Linked DNA regions of Homo sapiens: region 2 is linked to region 1. A link means that fine-mapping ties the variant in region 1 to the expression of a gene that starts in the linked region. Tissue or cell type: whole blood. Region 1 holds a variant in brackets; the other region holds the start of a gene. All regions are shown on one strand. Distances are between the middles of the regions.

Evidence for each region. PIP is the estimated chance that this variant, and not a neighbour inherited with it, causes the effect.
Region 2: WASHC1 starts here. The variant in region 1 is fine-mapped to the expression of WASHC1 in whole blood (TOPMed, PIP above 0.99).

What each region holds. Positions count from the first base shown.
Region 1 is chr9:188,860-197,042 of GRCh38, reverse strand. LOC105375943 (a long non-coding RNA gene) reads left to right here. Exons shown (of 3, transcript XR_001746595.2): 2 at 4,690-4,807; 3 at 5,091-6,329. Among named protein-coding and RNA genes, the nearest start is that of ZNG1A, 14 kb to the right of the region's middle. The variant AT/T (reference allele first, on the strand shown) is at 3,476.
Region 2 is chr9:25,160-33,342 of GRCh38, reverse strand. WASHC1 (WASH complex subunit 1) reads left to right here and starts at 3,887. Exons shown (of 11, transcript NM_001378090.1): 1 at 3,887-4,031. MIR1302-9HG (MIR1302-9 host gene) reads right to left here and starts at 3,684. Exons shown (of 3, transcript NR_197460.1): 1 at 3,461-3,684; 2 at 2,898-3,001; 3 at 2,452-2,585. It overlaps MIR1302-9 (microRNA 1302-9), which reads right to left and starts at 3,199; the gene lies at 3,062-3,199.

The sequences.
Region 1 (8,183 bases):
CAGTGAGCAGAGACCGCACCATTGCACTCCAGCCTGGGCAACAAGAGCAAAACTCCGTCTCAAAAAAAAAAAAAAAAAATCTTATGTTCCCCATAAATATAAATACCTATTATGTACCAATAAAAGTAAAAAGTAAAAAGTTTCAATTGATTCACAACTTTAAAAAATATCCACAGAGGCGTAAGAGGAGATATTGTATTGCACCCACAAACCAGTCTTATGCTGTTTCAGAAAGGGACATTCAAGAAACAAAAAGGGAGCTCTGGGAAATTTGAACAATAAATAATAGTAGAATAAAAAATTCAGAGAAAGTTTGGATGATAAATTGGAGCCAATCTCCCAGTAAGCAGAGCAAAAATATAGAAAATGAGAGTTAGAAAAGAAAAAGAAAAAAATTAAAGGACTAAAATAAGAAGTCCAACATCTAAATAAGAGGCGATCCACAGAGAGCAACAGAGATAAGAGAAGAAAGGAAATAATCAATAAAATAATTCCAGAAAATCCAAGGACATGAGTTCTCAGATTGTAACAGACTACTCGAGTGAAAAAAAAAAAAAAAAAAAGAATGGAGTTAGACCCATCCCAAGTCACATTATTTGTGCGATTTTAAAATACCGATATATTAGTTTGCTAGAGCTGCAGTAACAAAACACCACAGACTGGGTGGCTTGAACAGCAGAAATTTGTTTTCTCATGGTTCTTGATGCTAGAAGTCTAAGATCGAGGCGACAGCAGTTTCGTTTTTTCCTGACGCTTCTCTCCTTAGCTCACAGATGGCTGTCTTCTAGTTGTGTCCTCATACTGTCTTCCCTTGGTCACTGTTGTCTGTGTCCTCGTCTCCTCTTCTTAAAAGGACACCAGTCATATTAGGTTAAGAATTGCCCATTAGACCTCATTTTACCTTAATTACCTCTTTAAAGGCCCCACGTCTAAATACAGTCATATTCTAAACTACTGGGGGTTAGGGCTTCACTGAGTGAATTTTGGTGGAAAGTGGGGCGGGGGACACAATTCAGCCTACAAAAACTGGAAACAAAGTGAAAATCCTATGTGTTTCCGTGCTCAGAAGACAGGAAGTAGTCATACCCAAGAGTCAATAATTAAACTGGTTTCTCACCAGCAATTTGGAGACTGGAAGTTGGAAGACACAGAGCAGTGCCTACCACATTCAAAAGAGAAAAGAGGCCGGGCATGGTGGCTCACGCCTGTAATCCCAGCACTTTAGGAGGCGAGGAGGATGGATCACCAGGTCAGGTGTTCAAGACCAGCCTGACCAACATGGTGAAACGCTGTCTCTACTAAAAATACAAAAATTAGCTGGGCATGGTGGAACACGCCTGTAATCCCAGCACTTTGGGAGGCCACAGAGGGCAGATCACCAGGTCAGGAGTTTGAGACCAGCCTGACCAACAAGGTGAAACCCCATCTCTACTAAAAATACAAAAATTAGCCAGACGTGGTGGCGCATGCCTGTAATCCCAGCTACTCAGAAGGCTGAGACAGAAGAATCACTTGAACCCAGGAGGTGGAGGTTGCAGTGACCCGAGATCGTGCCACTGCACTCCATCCTGGGTGACAGAATGAGACTCCGTCTCAAAAAAAAAAAAAAAAAAAAAAAGAGAGAGAGAAAAGAATTCCAACCCAGAATTCTCAACTTCACTGTGTCAGAGGATATGAAGTAAACAAATATTCATCTCTACATTTGCCAGTCCCTGTGGACTTAGACCAGATAGTATAAATAATAGTCACAAAAGGAGTATGAATGGGATAAGAAGCCACTTCTAGTCTGAGACAATTAAGAGTAGTAGTGCCTTCTCTGCACTCTCACCCCCTCATTCTGACAGCTGAAGTGAAGGACTCCCAACTTCTGGAACTGCCCAATGAAAGTAGCCTTGTGTGAGTGTTAGCTGGCCTGCTTTGGTCTGGGATGCAAGTAGAAATAAACTCCTCTCATATTAAGCCACTAAGACTTTAGGGATATGTTGCTGTAGCATAGCCTAATATAGCCTGATTACTGAACGAGCCACCCCATCAACTGAATCTATGTATATACTAAAAACATTTTAAGATATGCAAGGTCTCAAAGAGTTCACTCGATGCACGCTTTTTCTCAGGAAGCTACTAGAGGATGTGCTCTACAAAAAATAAAGGTATAAATTATGAAAGAGGAAAACATAGGATTTAGGAATCAAGGGAATTCAGCACAAGACAGAAGAAAAGGGAATCTGCAGCAAGATCCCTGAGCTGTGCATGTAACATAAAGGGCAACAATTTCCAACACAGAGCAGATCACAAGACCCGAGGATAGATTTCTTGAAGAAAATGAAATTAAAAGAATACTGGATTCATCTGAACATACGAAAAGGAGATTTAAGCAACTTTTTAAGAGCTTGGGAATGAATTAATGATAAATATATGGTATTATGCAACCAAAACTACAATAAAAACTCATTAAAAATTATAACTCATAAAATTATTAATTTCAGGGAAAATAAAAAGTTGAGTAGGAATGAAAAAAGAATCAGAGGATACTATAAAGCTCATCTGTGGATATTGTTTACGTAGTCATAATAATGAAAAAGAAATAATCTAACCAAAATTAAACGTTGGAAGTGTGGGGAGATAGAAATGGTAGAGTGTATTCGGTATTTATGTGTTGGGGAGGATACCTGTAAGTTTAACATTAGTGAGCTTTACTTTACTAAGGCTAAATAAACAAACTCAAGTGTCCAGAAAGGCTAGAGAAGGAGCTTACAAGAATGAAGCTATTGTGGTGTGATTCAATGGGGAATAGGTGAGGCATTGGCAACATCAATTTGTAGTATCCCTGCCAATTGATACTACAACATCAATTTGTAGTATCCCTGCCAAAATTTAACTATGGAAAATAGTTAAATTTTAATATGCACACATCTGTGGTTGTGGTTATACAGATATATATATATATAAAATAAAAATTTATATATAAATAAATACATAAACAAACTCAAGTGTCCAACAGGGCTAGATAAGGAGCTTACAAGAATGAAGCAGCTGTGATGTGATTCAATAGGGAATAGGTGGGGCCTTGGCAAACCAAAGAACATATTCTGTCTAAAGTGGATGGCCACAACTTGCTCCAGCTGTGGAAACTTGGGCCATGTACTGCTAGATCTAAGGATTTTCTTTTGAGAGATGCTAGATATATACGTTTTTTAAAAATAAAATTATCCTGATTTTAACAACATTGTGTTATTATATAAAACATACCTTGGAGGGTGTGGGTAAGACACAATGTCCTTGAAATTATATTTCACTGGGTTAATGAAATTGGCTCCGGAAGAAACTAATTTTAAACAGCAAACCAAAGAGTGAAGGCCTTCAAAACTAACAAACCAAAGGAAAACAAAACAAAATGACAACAAGAAAAAAACAAAGAAACAAAACCCCTGGACCTTACCATTTTTCTAAGGCATGTTGACATGATAAAATCAAA[AT/T]TGCTTTGTGCATATAAGGATCAAAGGTTATGCTTTTGACTTTATAAATTCAGAGAAAGAATTTAATTGGAATTATTTTTATGAATTAACTGAAGATCTAAGGCAACTGGATAATTTAGGTTCTGCTACTATCTAGAATGTTCAAAGTTTATGTTTAGTCTGACACTAAAGAATCCATTATTTCTCTTGACTTCCAGGCTGGTCAGTGTCTTTCCTGTGTCATATACCAAACAATGTGTTAGAAATTGTCTTCTCACTCATAAACTAATATGTGTTCAGAGTAAAAAGGCAAGCAAGTAAATAATGAGAGAAAATTCAGTGTATTGTATAAACAAAGACAGAAGGCAGACCAATGGTTACCTGGGGCCAAAGCTAAAGAGATTAATTGTACACAGACACAAAGGAATTTTTTGGGATGGTGAAAGTGTTCTAAGACTGGATTGGGATGATTGTGGCACTACTGTATAAATGTTATTAAAACTCATTGAGTTGTACACTTAAATGAGTGGCTAAGTTGTGCCTTAATAAAGCTGTAATTTTGAAAAAGAATAATGGGTGATCAACTGTGAGCTAGAGTATGATGAAAACACAAGACATTTACATAGTTTCAAAGTATCTCCCCATCAGGTACTTATTAACTGCATCAGGGAAACAGTAATTTTATTGTGGCAGAACCCTGCTGACAAAGTTAACATTCTAGTAAAAGCACAGGTGGACGTCTTGTGCCTCCTGAAGTGATGCACAGAGAAGGATGCAACATCAACTTGTAGTATCCCTGCCAAAAATATATAACCTGAATTTAACCATGCTGAAACATAAGACAAATCCAAGCGAAGGAACATTCTACAAAACAACTGACCAGTACTCCTCAAGAGTGTCAAGGTCCTGGAAGACAAAGACTGAGCAATGCTTCTGATTAAAGTAGACTGAGAGGTGACAACTGAATGCAATGTGGGATTCTGGATTAGGTCTTGGCCCAGAAACAGGTCTTCGGTGGGACAACTGGCAAAATGTGAATAAGGTCTCTGGTTTTGTGAATGGTAGCGTATCGATGCTCATTACCTGCTTTTGATCATGGTAGTGATAGTAAGATATTAACATTCAGGAAAACACAGTGAAGGGTATATGTGAATCTCTACTATTTTTGTAACTTTTGTAAGTTGAAATTGTTTCAAAATGAGTTAGAAGATTAAAAGGAAGTTTTCTCTTTCAGCTGGGAAAACGGCAATGGATTAATAACAAGAAATTAATGGTGAAGTGGTGACTAAAATTCTACATTGCTTAGAAAGCAAGTAAGAAAATCAGTGGTTGTAGAGAAGTTCTTCCATGAGGTAATAAAAATAAAAACTGTGATGTTAAGCATTTTCTATTTTCTTTTCCTCCCCTCCAAATGAAACAGCATACTATTCTGCATGTTTTTCTACCTAACGATGTATCATTTTAACGACTCTTGTATTTTAAACCTAAAATTTTGATTAAGCTTCACTTAATATTAAAAAAGATAGTATAGGTCACGATGTTATTTGATGCAAACGTTGGAAAGACAGAATCTTCTTGATCCAAGAGCTTCTAGAATTCAAAGTCTGATTCTGGTTATTTCTCTGCTCATTTAAGATAGTGAAATGAACATTTACATTCTGGCAACCTCAGAAGTACAACGAACAGAGGACACCCGCCAGGTAGGGCAAAGGCCTGTGCACCCCCTTTTGCTGTTACATGTTTACCAGGTGCGTGCTCTGTTTCTGTTGTATTACATTACTTTTCTCTTCAATGTCTACTGAGGAAGAACAAGTAGCTCCTCAGGCAAGTCAACTGTTAACTCTGCAGTTTTTATTTAATCTCCCAGGAATGTAACCTTTAACTTTAAAGAATGTAGTGACCATAAAACTTATAAAGCATGTTTCTTAAGGAAATTGTACCTGTTTATTTAATCTATCAGATATGAATGTTATAGAAAATTAAATTTGTCCACTTAAGCTATAGATGAACTTTTCACCTTTCTGATCAGAAATTCACCATCTTATAGTATAGGTTCTGTTATTAATCAGAATATTTCATTTAGACTCTTTCTATCCAACTTTTTCTTAGAGGCTATTCAAAATAAAGGTGCTTCTAACAGTTTCATATCGAAATACGATGCAAAGCCTTGCTCTTCCATGGTATCCTTTGAGTGAGCCAAACTTATTTGGTCATTCCCCTATAGTTAAATAGCTAGGATGTTTCCAACATCTCACCTTTAAAACAATAGTGCTATGAATGTCATAAATGTTTGTATATGTAAATATGTAGGATAAATGCCTATCAGTAGAATTTCAAAAGGTATACGCAATCAGTATTTTCATACATATTTAAAATTTTCCATCCATACAAAGGTTGCTAACATATTTATTTAAAATTTTAAAAATAATTTTATATGCCTCTTGTAACCAGTAATAGGATGCAAAGTTTTTTTTTAAGGTAACATTGCTCCTCTTCCCCCACTGTCTCTGTCATCTATAGTACTCCCTGAGGTAGTTCATGTTATTGCAAGGGTGTGTATCATCCCAAACATATTGCTTCCACATACATATATCAGCATACATATATATATATGTATAGCATGTATATATGAGCACATATTAATATATGCCCATGCACATACAAGCATGTTTTTGTTAATTTTTACTGAAATGGAATCATGCTACATACTTATGAACAAATTGCTTCTTTCACCTTATATCACTTATAATTGTTATTCTACAAATCAGTACATATAAAAAATACATATTTACTTATGTAATACTCTATCTTTCTGTTATAATTTTCTGCATGCACATGTATGCATATACATATATTCATAAACATAAAAATCTAAACGGGATTTTTTTTGGGGGGGTGATATGGTTTGGCTGTGTCCCCACCCAAATCTCATCTTGAATTCCCATGTGTTGTGGGGGGACCCGGTGGGAGGTAATTGAATTATGGGGGCAGGTCTTTCCTGTGCTGTTCTCGGGATAGTGAAAAAGTCTCACGAGATCTGATGGTTTTAAAAAGATGAGTTTCCCTGCATAAGCTCTCTTCTCCTGTCTGGTTCCATGTGAGATGTGCCTTTTGCCTTCCGCCATGATTGTGAGGCCTCCCCAGCCATGTGGAACTGTAAGTCCAATAAACCCCTTTCTTTTGCAAATTGCTCAGTCTCAGGTATGTCTTTATCAGCAGCATAAAAATGAAACAATACAGTAAATTGGTACAAGTAGAGTGGGGCGCTGCTGAAATGATACCTGAAAATGTGGAAGAAACTTTGGAACTGGGCAACAAGCAGAGGTTGGAACAGTTTTGAGGGCTCAGAAGACAGGAATATGTGGGAAAGTTTGGAGCTTCCTAGAGACCTGTTGAATGACTTTGCCCAAAATGCTGACAGTGATATAGACAATAAAGTCCAGGCTGAGGTGGTCTTAGATGGAAACAAGAAACTTGTTGGGAACTGGAGCAATGGTGACTCTTCTTATGTTTTAGTAAAGATACTAGGGGCATTTTGCCCCTGCCATAGATATATGTGGAACTTTTAACTTGAGAGAGATGATTTAGGGTACCTGGCAGAAGAAATTTCTAAGCAGCAAAGCATTCAAGAGGTGACTTGGGTGCTGTTAAAGGTATTCAGTTTTATAAGGGAAGCAGAGCACAAAAGTTTGGAAAATTTGCAGCCTGACAATGTGCTAGAAAAGAAAATCCCATTTTCTGAGGAGAAATTCAAGCTGGCTGCAGAAATTTGCATAAGTAACAAGGAGCTGAATGTTAATCCCCAAGACAATGGGGAAAGTGTCTCCAGGGCATGTCAGAGTTCTTCATGGCAACCCTCCCATCACAGGCCCAGAGGTTTAGGAGGAAAAAGTGGTTTCGTGGGCTGGGCCCAGGGTCCCTCTGCTGTATGCAGTCTAGGGACTTCATACCCTGCATCCCAGCCATGAATGAAAGGGGCCAAAGTACAGCTCTGTCTGTTGCTTCAGAGGGTGCAAGCCCCAAGCCTTGGCAGCTTCCACATGGCTTTGAGCCTGTGGGTGCACAGAAGTCAAGAATTGAGGTTTGGGAAACTCCGCCTAGATATCAGAAGATGTAGAAGTTTGCGGTAGGGGTGGGTCCCTCATGGAGAACCTCTGCTAGGGCAGTGTGAAAGGGAAATGTGAGATTGGAGCCCCCAAACAGAGTCCCTACTGGGGCACCATCTAGTGGAGCAGTGAGAAGAGGGCCACTGTTCTTTAGACCCCAGAATGGTAGATCCATGGACGGCTTGCACTGTGCACCTAGAAAAACCACAGACACTCAATGCCAGCCCGTGAAAGCAACCTGGAGAGAGGCTGTACCCTGCAAAACCTCAGGGGCAGAGCTGCCCAAGACCATAGGAACCAACCCCTTGCATCAGCATGACCTGGATGTGAGACATGGAGGCAAAGGAGATCATTTTGGAGCTTTAAGATTTGACTGTCCCACTGGATTTCAGACTTTCATGGGGCCTGTTTCCCCTTTGTTTTGGCCAATTTCTCCCATTTGGGATGGCTGTATTTACCAAATGCTGTACCCCCATTATATCTAGGAAGTAACTAACTCGCTTTTGATTTTACAGCCCCGTAGGTGGAAGGGACTTGCCTTGTCTCGGATGAGACTTTGGACTTTGGACTGTGGACTTTTGAGTTAACGCTGAAATGAATTAATACTAAAATGAATTAAGAC
Region 2 (8,183 bases), 160 kb after region 1:
CCTAGAACTTAAGTATATAAAAAAAAAAAAGAAAAAAAAACTTTCACCTTTTTCCAAAGTGTTGGGATTATGGGTGTGAGCAACCACATCTGGTCCTTTTTTTTTTTTTTTAATGGAGGTGAAATTCATATAAGTTTGGCCATTTTAAAGTGAACAATCAGTGGCATTCAGTACATTCACCATGTTGTGCCAACACTATCTCTATGTAGTTCCAAAACATTTTCATCAGCTCAAAATGAAACCTTGTACCCATGAAGCAGCCACTTCCCATTCTCCCCTCCCCTTAGCCCCTGGAAATCGGCTTTCTTTCTCCACGGATTTACATATTCTGTATATTTCCTATAAATGGAATTACACAATAGGTGACCTGTGTCTGGCTTCTTCCACTTAACCTAATGCTTTTGAGGTTCTGTCACATGGTGCCATGGATCAGCTCTGCCTTCCTTTTTATGACTAATACTCCACTGTATGTCCATATCACCATTTGTGTATTCACTCATTAATCTATGGACACAAGCCTCATTTTTAAGCACTTCAAATATGTTAACTCACTGAATCCTCACCACAAAGACAGATTCAGTTATTACATATTGACAGAGTGAAAACTGAGGCACAGGTAACATGCCTAGGATCACGTGGCTATGAAGCAGAAAGAGGACTCCAGCCGAGGCAGTCTAGTCCCAAAGTCCTTCCCTTCCTAGTAACCACTATGCTCTCCTGCCTCTCAGAGAACAACCCACATGGCACAACACGAGGGCTAAGCTGTCTGGTCTGTCGGGTGAAGCTTCAAATGCTGTTCATTTCCGATAAGGGGAGGTTCCTGGGCTGCAGAGGCTTCCTAGAGGAGGAAGACCATGTAAGGTCTAACTCAGGGCAGGTCAGGATGGTGTGAACTCACTCTGAACACAGTCACCGATGGGTGTTTAGGAAAATTGGCTCTGGAACTCCCACAGGGAAGGTTCTTATCTTTGCGTGCACAACACAGAGCCCTCTGGGTAGACTTCTAGACCCAGGCCTCTTTCAAATACATTAGAAACCTCAGCAAGATAAACTATTTTCTGTCTGGCTGCATCTGTCTATCTGTTTAGAGAGCAGGACATTTCCATCCTCCTCTCTCCAGGCATCCTTGGAAGTCTTTCCCACAAGCAAGACATCTTGGTGAAATTTAATGCTGCGGAGGGAAGTGGTTTTCAGGAGAGAGGAGTCTGTTCCCAGAACTGTAGCACAAAAGCTAGAGGCTGAGTAGGAACATCTTAAACTAAGTCCTCAGTCTTATTTCCAGTTTTCTTCCTGTAGATCGGGGCTTAGGACACCCTGTCACATTTTCTTCACTCCTCCACCAGGAATTCCTAAAGTCCATGCTCTTGGATCCTGGCAAATCCAGGAGGCTGGGGGATGTGGCAAGCTTCAGCAAGACTGCCTGGGACCAACCCTGCAGCCTTAATTCCCAGGCCCGCTCAGCCCAGCTGGCCAGCAAAGGCAGGCAGAGCTTCTGTGTCCACACATGAGAATGACCTGCAGCTGTTCTTTGTCCAGGCTGAGGTCCAGGATTCCCATTGCAGCTCCTAGGAAATCTTTAAAATTAGGTCGGGGATGAGCCTGTCAGTAGATTAGGTAGGGAACTTTTATGAAGTTGAGGGTGAACCATCTGGAGGGTGAACTGGCTGGTGTGATTCTAGAACTGGGGGTGGTGCCTAGCAGTGCATTTGTGAGAAGACACAGCCAGGCTTGGTATATGATGTGGTGTGTGTGTATATTCACAGGCATCGTGGAGCATATACACTTTTTTTGTGTGTGTTGAAATAAACCTTACAGATTACAAAGTACTTTTTTTTTTTTTTCTGAGACAGGGTCTCTCTCTGTCGCCCAGCCTGGAGTGCAGTGGTACAATCATAGCTCACTGCAGCCTCGATCTCCCAAGCTCAAGTGATCCTCCCGCCTCAGCCTCCCATGTAGCTGGGACTACAGGTGTGTGACACCATGACTGGCTATTTTATTTTATTTTTGTAGAGATGGAATCTCACAATATTGCCCAGGCTGATCTCAAACTCTTGGGCTCAAGCAGTCCTCTCGCGTCAGCCTACCAAAGTGCTAGGATTACAGGCATGAGCCACCACGCCCAGCCAGATTACAAAATACTTTGACATCTTTTCTCTACAGCCCTCAAAAGGAGGCAGGGCAAGCACAATTAAATCCCATTACAAATGGGGTGACTGAAGCTCCATTCATGGCTTGCCCAGGGTCACACAAAGAATGAATAGCAGATCCCTGAGCCTGTGTGCTTCCCTCTGTGCCAGGCTGCTTTACCCAGGCATGGGTGCACGTTGTGCATGGGACATTTCTCCTTTGTTGTGTCCTGAGTACCTTAAGCCACTCAGATATTGCTCAGGTGGAGTGAGGGGAAAATGTTTTCAGGTTGTATTAGTCAAAACAAAATACCACACACTGGGCGACTTTAAAATCATACATTTATCCCTCACAGTTCTGGAGGCTTGGAAGTCCAAGTTCAAGGTGGCAGCTGGACAGGTTCCTGGTGAGGGCTCTCTTCCTGGTTTGCAGACAGCCACCTTCTCTTCGCATCCTCACTTGGTGGGAAAAGACAGAGGAGAGAAAGAGAGAGAGAGAAAAATGAGATAGAGAGAGAGAGAGAAATGAGATAGAGAGAAATGAGAGAGAGAGAGAGAGAGAGAGAGAGAGGGAGACACAGAGACAATGCTCTCTTTTCTTACCAGATCTATAATGAGGGCCCCACCCCATGACCTCATCTAACCGTAATTACCTACCAAAGGCCCATCTCCACATACCATCACATTAGGGGTTAGGGTTTCAACATAAGCATTTGGAGAGGACATAAACATTCTGTCTACAACATGAGTGGAGATCCATCTCTTCTTTACCTCTGGTAAGGGGACCACACGCTGCAGCCAGCGAGACAGTGGCATGTTCTTGTTACAACTCGATCTAACTCCCCCAGAAGAGGAGGCAGGGAAGGCGGACAAAACTGGGAGAGGGAGAGAGTGTTAGGAAGAGAGTAGGGTGGCCAGAGGCAGCAAATAAAATATAAAATGCTTAATTCTGAATCTCAGATAAACAACCAATAATGTTTTTTAGCATAAGTATGTCCCAAACTAAGCTTGGGACATATTTATGCTACGAAATTATTCGTTGTTTATCTAAAATTCAAACTAGCTGGGCATCCTGTCTTTTAATCTGGCAACCCTAAAAGGCAAGGGCCAAAAATGCCGGAGGCAAGCCAACGGATTCCAGGAGGGACAACTGCTGGACTTTGGACTGATGATGCTCTTTTTATATATTTAACTTTTTAAAAAAGCCTCTTTTCTTTCTTTTTACCAGCTTTTCACTAGCTTTTTAAAAATTGTGGTAAAACATACATAACCTAAAATTCACCGTCTAAACCATTTTTCAGCATACAGTTCAGTGGGATTAAGTAGATTCACACCGTTGTGCCGCCATCACTACCACTCATTTCCAGCACCCTTCCATCACCCCAGCCTGAAACTCTACCCATTGAACACGAGCTGCCCAACTCCGCCTTGCTTCCCCATTCCTGGCGACCACTGCTTCTGTCTCTGTGAATTTTGACTATTCTAGGCACTTCACAAAACTGGACTCATACGATATCTGTAGTTTTGCGTCTGGCTTCTCTATTGAATTCTTAAAGGGGGGTGGGAACTAAGCAGATCACAAGGGAGCTGCCCACAGAGGTAAAGACAAGGTCAGGTAGGCTGAGAGACGCAGGAAAGCGGGTCAAGGCGTAGGGCTGGAGGGCAGGGGCGGGCCCTGGGCGTGGGCTGGGGGTCCTGCCCCGGGGCGCACCCCGGGCGAGGGCTGCCCGGAGGAGCCGAGGTTGGCGGACAGCTTGGCCCTGAGCTTGAGGGGAAGGCAGCGATGGGACAAAGGACGGAGGTCTAGGAAGAGGGTCTGCAGAGCAGAAAGCACGGGTAGGGGCGGCCTGACGCTCGGAAGACAACGGATGGGAGCCGTGTGCACGTCGGGAGCTCGGAGTGAGCGTGAGTTCCGTGCCCAGGCCCGCGACTCGGCCCGACAGGACAGCGCTCCGGGTCGACGGGGTCCTGGAGCCGCGCTCGGGGAGGCGTCTTGGGCTCGCCCCGGAGCTTCCTCCCTGGAGCCGCGCCCTGCACCCGGCCTTGCCCGGCCCTAGCAGGGAAGCCAAGGCTTGTGGGGCGCAGGGACCCGGGCTCTGCGGGGTCCCGGTTCCGCCTCCCCACTCCTGCGTCTTCCCGCCCCTGCCGGGTTCTGGGAAGCCTCGCGCGGCTCTTCCGCAGCTGCTGCCCGCCCGGAGCTCCTGGTCCCTCGTAGGGGACCCCACTTCTCTGACACCGCTTTGGGTTCCCGGGGCCTACAGCGAGGCTTGTAACTCCGGGAGAGACCCTGGAGCGGGGTGTGGGAGAACGGTCTGGAGGAAGGGCTCCGAGCACTTCGAAAGTATAAACCGCGGTCCCAAAGAGGCGTGCTGTGTCTGCATTTTCCTGGGAGTGCACGGTTTACATTCTCGAAAGCAGTGCTGTCGACTAGAAATATTGAGCGATACACATGTACAAGTTTTGTCACTTAAAAAGAATTTGAAAAAACTTCATAGATGCAAAAAAAAAAAAAAACCCACCATTATTAAAGAATACTTAGGTATTTGTGGAATGCATTGAAGAGTTAACAAAATGGATAGGCAGGAAATATCGCAGACCTAGAATGAATTACAGTTACCCACTGTGGAACTGAGGAGCTAGGGTTTCTCATAAAACTCCCTGATAGAAGACGACTTTTGATAAAATTTTTTTTCCGCCAACAAAATCCCCTGTCTTCTCAACTAGTTACTGTCTGTCCACTAAATAAGAGGTGGTCCGTCACTTCTTCAGATGAGCAACTACAGGCTTTTCAAAAGATAATTGCTAATCAACCCCTTTGTGCCTGGGTTTTCTTATTTGTAAAAATAGATACTACTACCTAACTCCAAAGTGTGTGGTGAAGACAAACAATTGGGGTGATGTATACTAAAGTAACGAAAGTGTTGACCACACACTACGGGCTGGTTAGTGTTAGATTCCCTTGTTTTTCCCTCAGTATCAAAAACAGATCTAATTTAGGTTTACATAAAGACAAAGTATGAAGATAAGGTGACTTACAGTTGGTACTACTAACAAAATGTTTGGGCTAATATTTGCATTATTGCATGAAAACAACAAAACATATCAATAAATAACAAAAAGCTTGGAATTCAGACGACAGATCCAAGTCTGGGCTTGATCTCAAGCTAGTGTTTTGATGTTGAAAAAATGTTATTTGGTCTTTCTAACCCCATTTCCTTATGTAAAATAGGGGATGATGATAAATTCACTGATAATAAGAGTTAAATGAGATTCTTGAGGAGTCAGAATGGTTCTAACATGTGTAGGTATTATTAGCAGTCATACTGTAGCATAAGAAAATACCGTCTGCTGAAAGAGGGACAATAAAGATTATCTACATGGTCATCATTTAAAAGCTACCAGATATAGGAAGAAGGGGCCATAAAATGATAACGTTATGATGATTAATTTTGATGCTTAGGTCAGAGTCCATTCTAGGATATCTGCTGCCCAAAAACAGCAGAGACTCATTTCTTTGGAATCACAGGACGCTGAGTGAGAGGAAAGAAAAAGAAAAGAAATATTTAAGTCACATATGTGATTTCTAAAAGTAAAAAGAAACAGATGAAATTAGTGATATATTTTTAAAATCCAGTATATCCCAAATATGGTTATTTTAGCATGTAATCAATATAAAATAATAAGATATTTTACATTCTTTTTTTCTAGCCTTTGAAATTTGGTGCATATTTTACACTTATGGCACATCTCAATTCAGACTATCCACATTTCAAGTGCTCAGTGGCTGCATGTGCCTGGTGGCTACCATATTGGACAGCACAGGTCTAAGGATTTCATTCCTGCCACAAGTCCAAACTCCTAGCTTTAATTTTGAGTGTTTTTAACAAACTGGCCTCTGTTTATCATTCTTTCTTCTAGTACTTCCCCAAGGATGATTGTACCCTCAGCACTCAAGACCGCTTGCGGTTCCCCTACACACTTTTTGTTCAAGCTGTTTCTTTTACCTGGAATGCTGTCTTTGCACCTTCTTCCTGGACCTGGTTCACCCTCGTTGCCTAGGCTGGAGTGCCATGGCGCGATCTTGGCACACTGCAACCTCCACCTTCCCGGTTCAAGTGATTCTCCTTCCTCAGCCTCCCGAGTAGCGGGGATTACAGGCCTGCACCACCACGCCTGGCTAATTTTGTATTTTTAGTAGAGATGGAGTTTCACCATGTTGGTCAGACTGGTCTCGAACTCCCGACCTCAGGTGATCTGCCTGCCTTCGCCTCCCAAAGTGCTGGGATTACAGGCGTGAGCCGCTGCGCCCGGCCGAGAGGCACACATTCTGCTAAGAGCTTTTTCCTGACTCCCCTAACTCCAAGAGGGATTTGTCACTCCTTAGCTTTGTACCCATGACTGGAGTAGAATGAATTTAATTTGAGTTTAGTTGTTTTTGAGACTCTCCCTGGCTAGTGTAGTGTCTTATTCGTCTTTGTTGTGATCATGGCCTGCACCTAACAGATGATCAGTAGATGTTTGCAGACAGAAAGTAAACCACTCATCAGGTGTATTCAGTCCCATTCTTGAACGGGCTTGCTGCCTCCTTTTTGAGGAGATCTGTGTATGTACTCTTCTTTCACGCATATGTGTGAGCAAACACACACACACTAACAAGAAATTCATCTGAAGATGTGCACAGGAAATATCTTGCATCTTTACCCCCTTTGTGATCTTACATATGGGAGAACTGAGGCACAGAAATAAGTTAGGACAGCCAGCAAACTTGCATCAGTATAAATACAAAGAAGGGGAGGGAGGAACATGCTTGAAAGGGGTGTGCTGGTCTCAGAGGGTTGGGTTTCTCAGTTGGCTGGGCATCAGCTGGCCATGCTTTAGTTATTTGATGGGAGGAAAAATAAGTGGGAGGTGAGGAGTAACTCCTGGGCTCTGATGAGTATTCAAGGCAAGTACAGATCTGGAAAGCCTGTATGCAAAGGAGGAACTCACTGAAAAGTGCTGGCCTGAGGAGGGCAGAAGGGAGGGCTGGGGAAGCCAGCAGCGGGAGCAAAGGAGTAGGCTCCAACTGGGTGAAGATGTTGGTGTGGTGCGTTATGTAAAATATACAAATTATTATTGGAAATAACCACGTCTCAGCAGTGCTAGTTCTCAGTTTGGAGAATGGGAAATCGAAAGGATCAGATTCAGAGACGGCAACTTACTCAAGGTCACAGCATTTTAAACCCAAGTGAAATCTCCTAGGCCCTTCATGCCACACTCATCCATCCATACCTACTTGTGTTGCAACCAAGGGCCCCACTGTAGTGCCTAGGGGAGCAGGTCTAGGGCACAGTGCCAGGCCTGATTAATGTCTTCCTTACCATTTTCCAGTGAGGGGCTGTGATTAGGCCTATTTATAGGGGCCTGGTCCCTTAATATTCTGCCTGGTGCATCTCTTGCCAATCAAATCAGTGCTGTCTGCAGTGTGATTGCTGCTTTAGTGGCACCAGGGAGAGGAGTTAATTAAACCCAATATAAATAGACTCTGCCCTCACTTTGCAATTCCAGGAGTGTTTTTCCTTCCTGTCCTCCACCCCCACAGGCACCTCTTTCCTCTTGTCCCCCTAAGCTCTAGCCTGGGTGAGCAGGGCTGGATACTCCTATACCTAGAGTCACTAGCCACTGCCCAGTCTGTTTCAGGAGCAGGCCTCAGATTCCTCAGGGGTTAAAGTGGGAAGAACCCGTGTGTGCACATTTTTTGTGCTTTTCCAGAACTGTGTACCATTTGGCAGTTGATCAGGCAATCTCCCCTGCTACCCCATTTCTACCCCTTTGTTTCCAGCCTCTTTTTTCCTCTGCAACCAAGGTTTCTTGTTTATCCAAGGTGGGGAGCTGAACTGAGACAAGGTATGGAAAGGGTGCCTGGCAGGTAGCAAGCACCTTGTAGGGGGTCAGAAATGTTGCACCTTCTCTGAACTCCTCCATTGACCCTACAGATTCCCCAGTCCCGGGCCCTGCCCTTTCCCTCATTCACTCAGCAGGCATCAGCAGAGTCCCATCTATGCGCTCCTGGCCTCT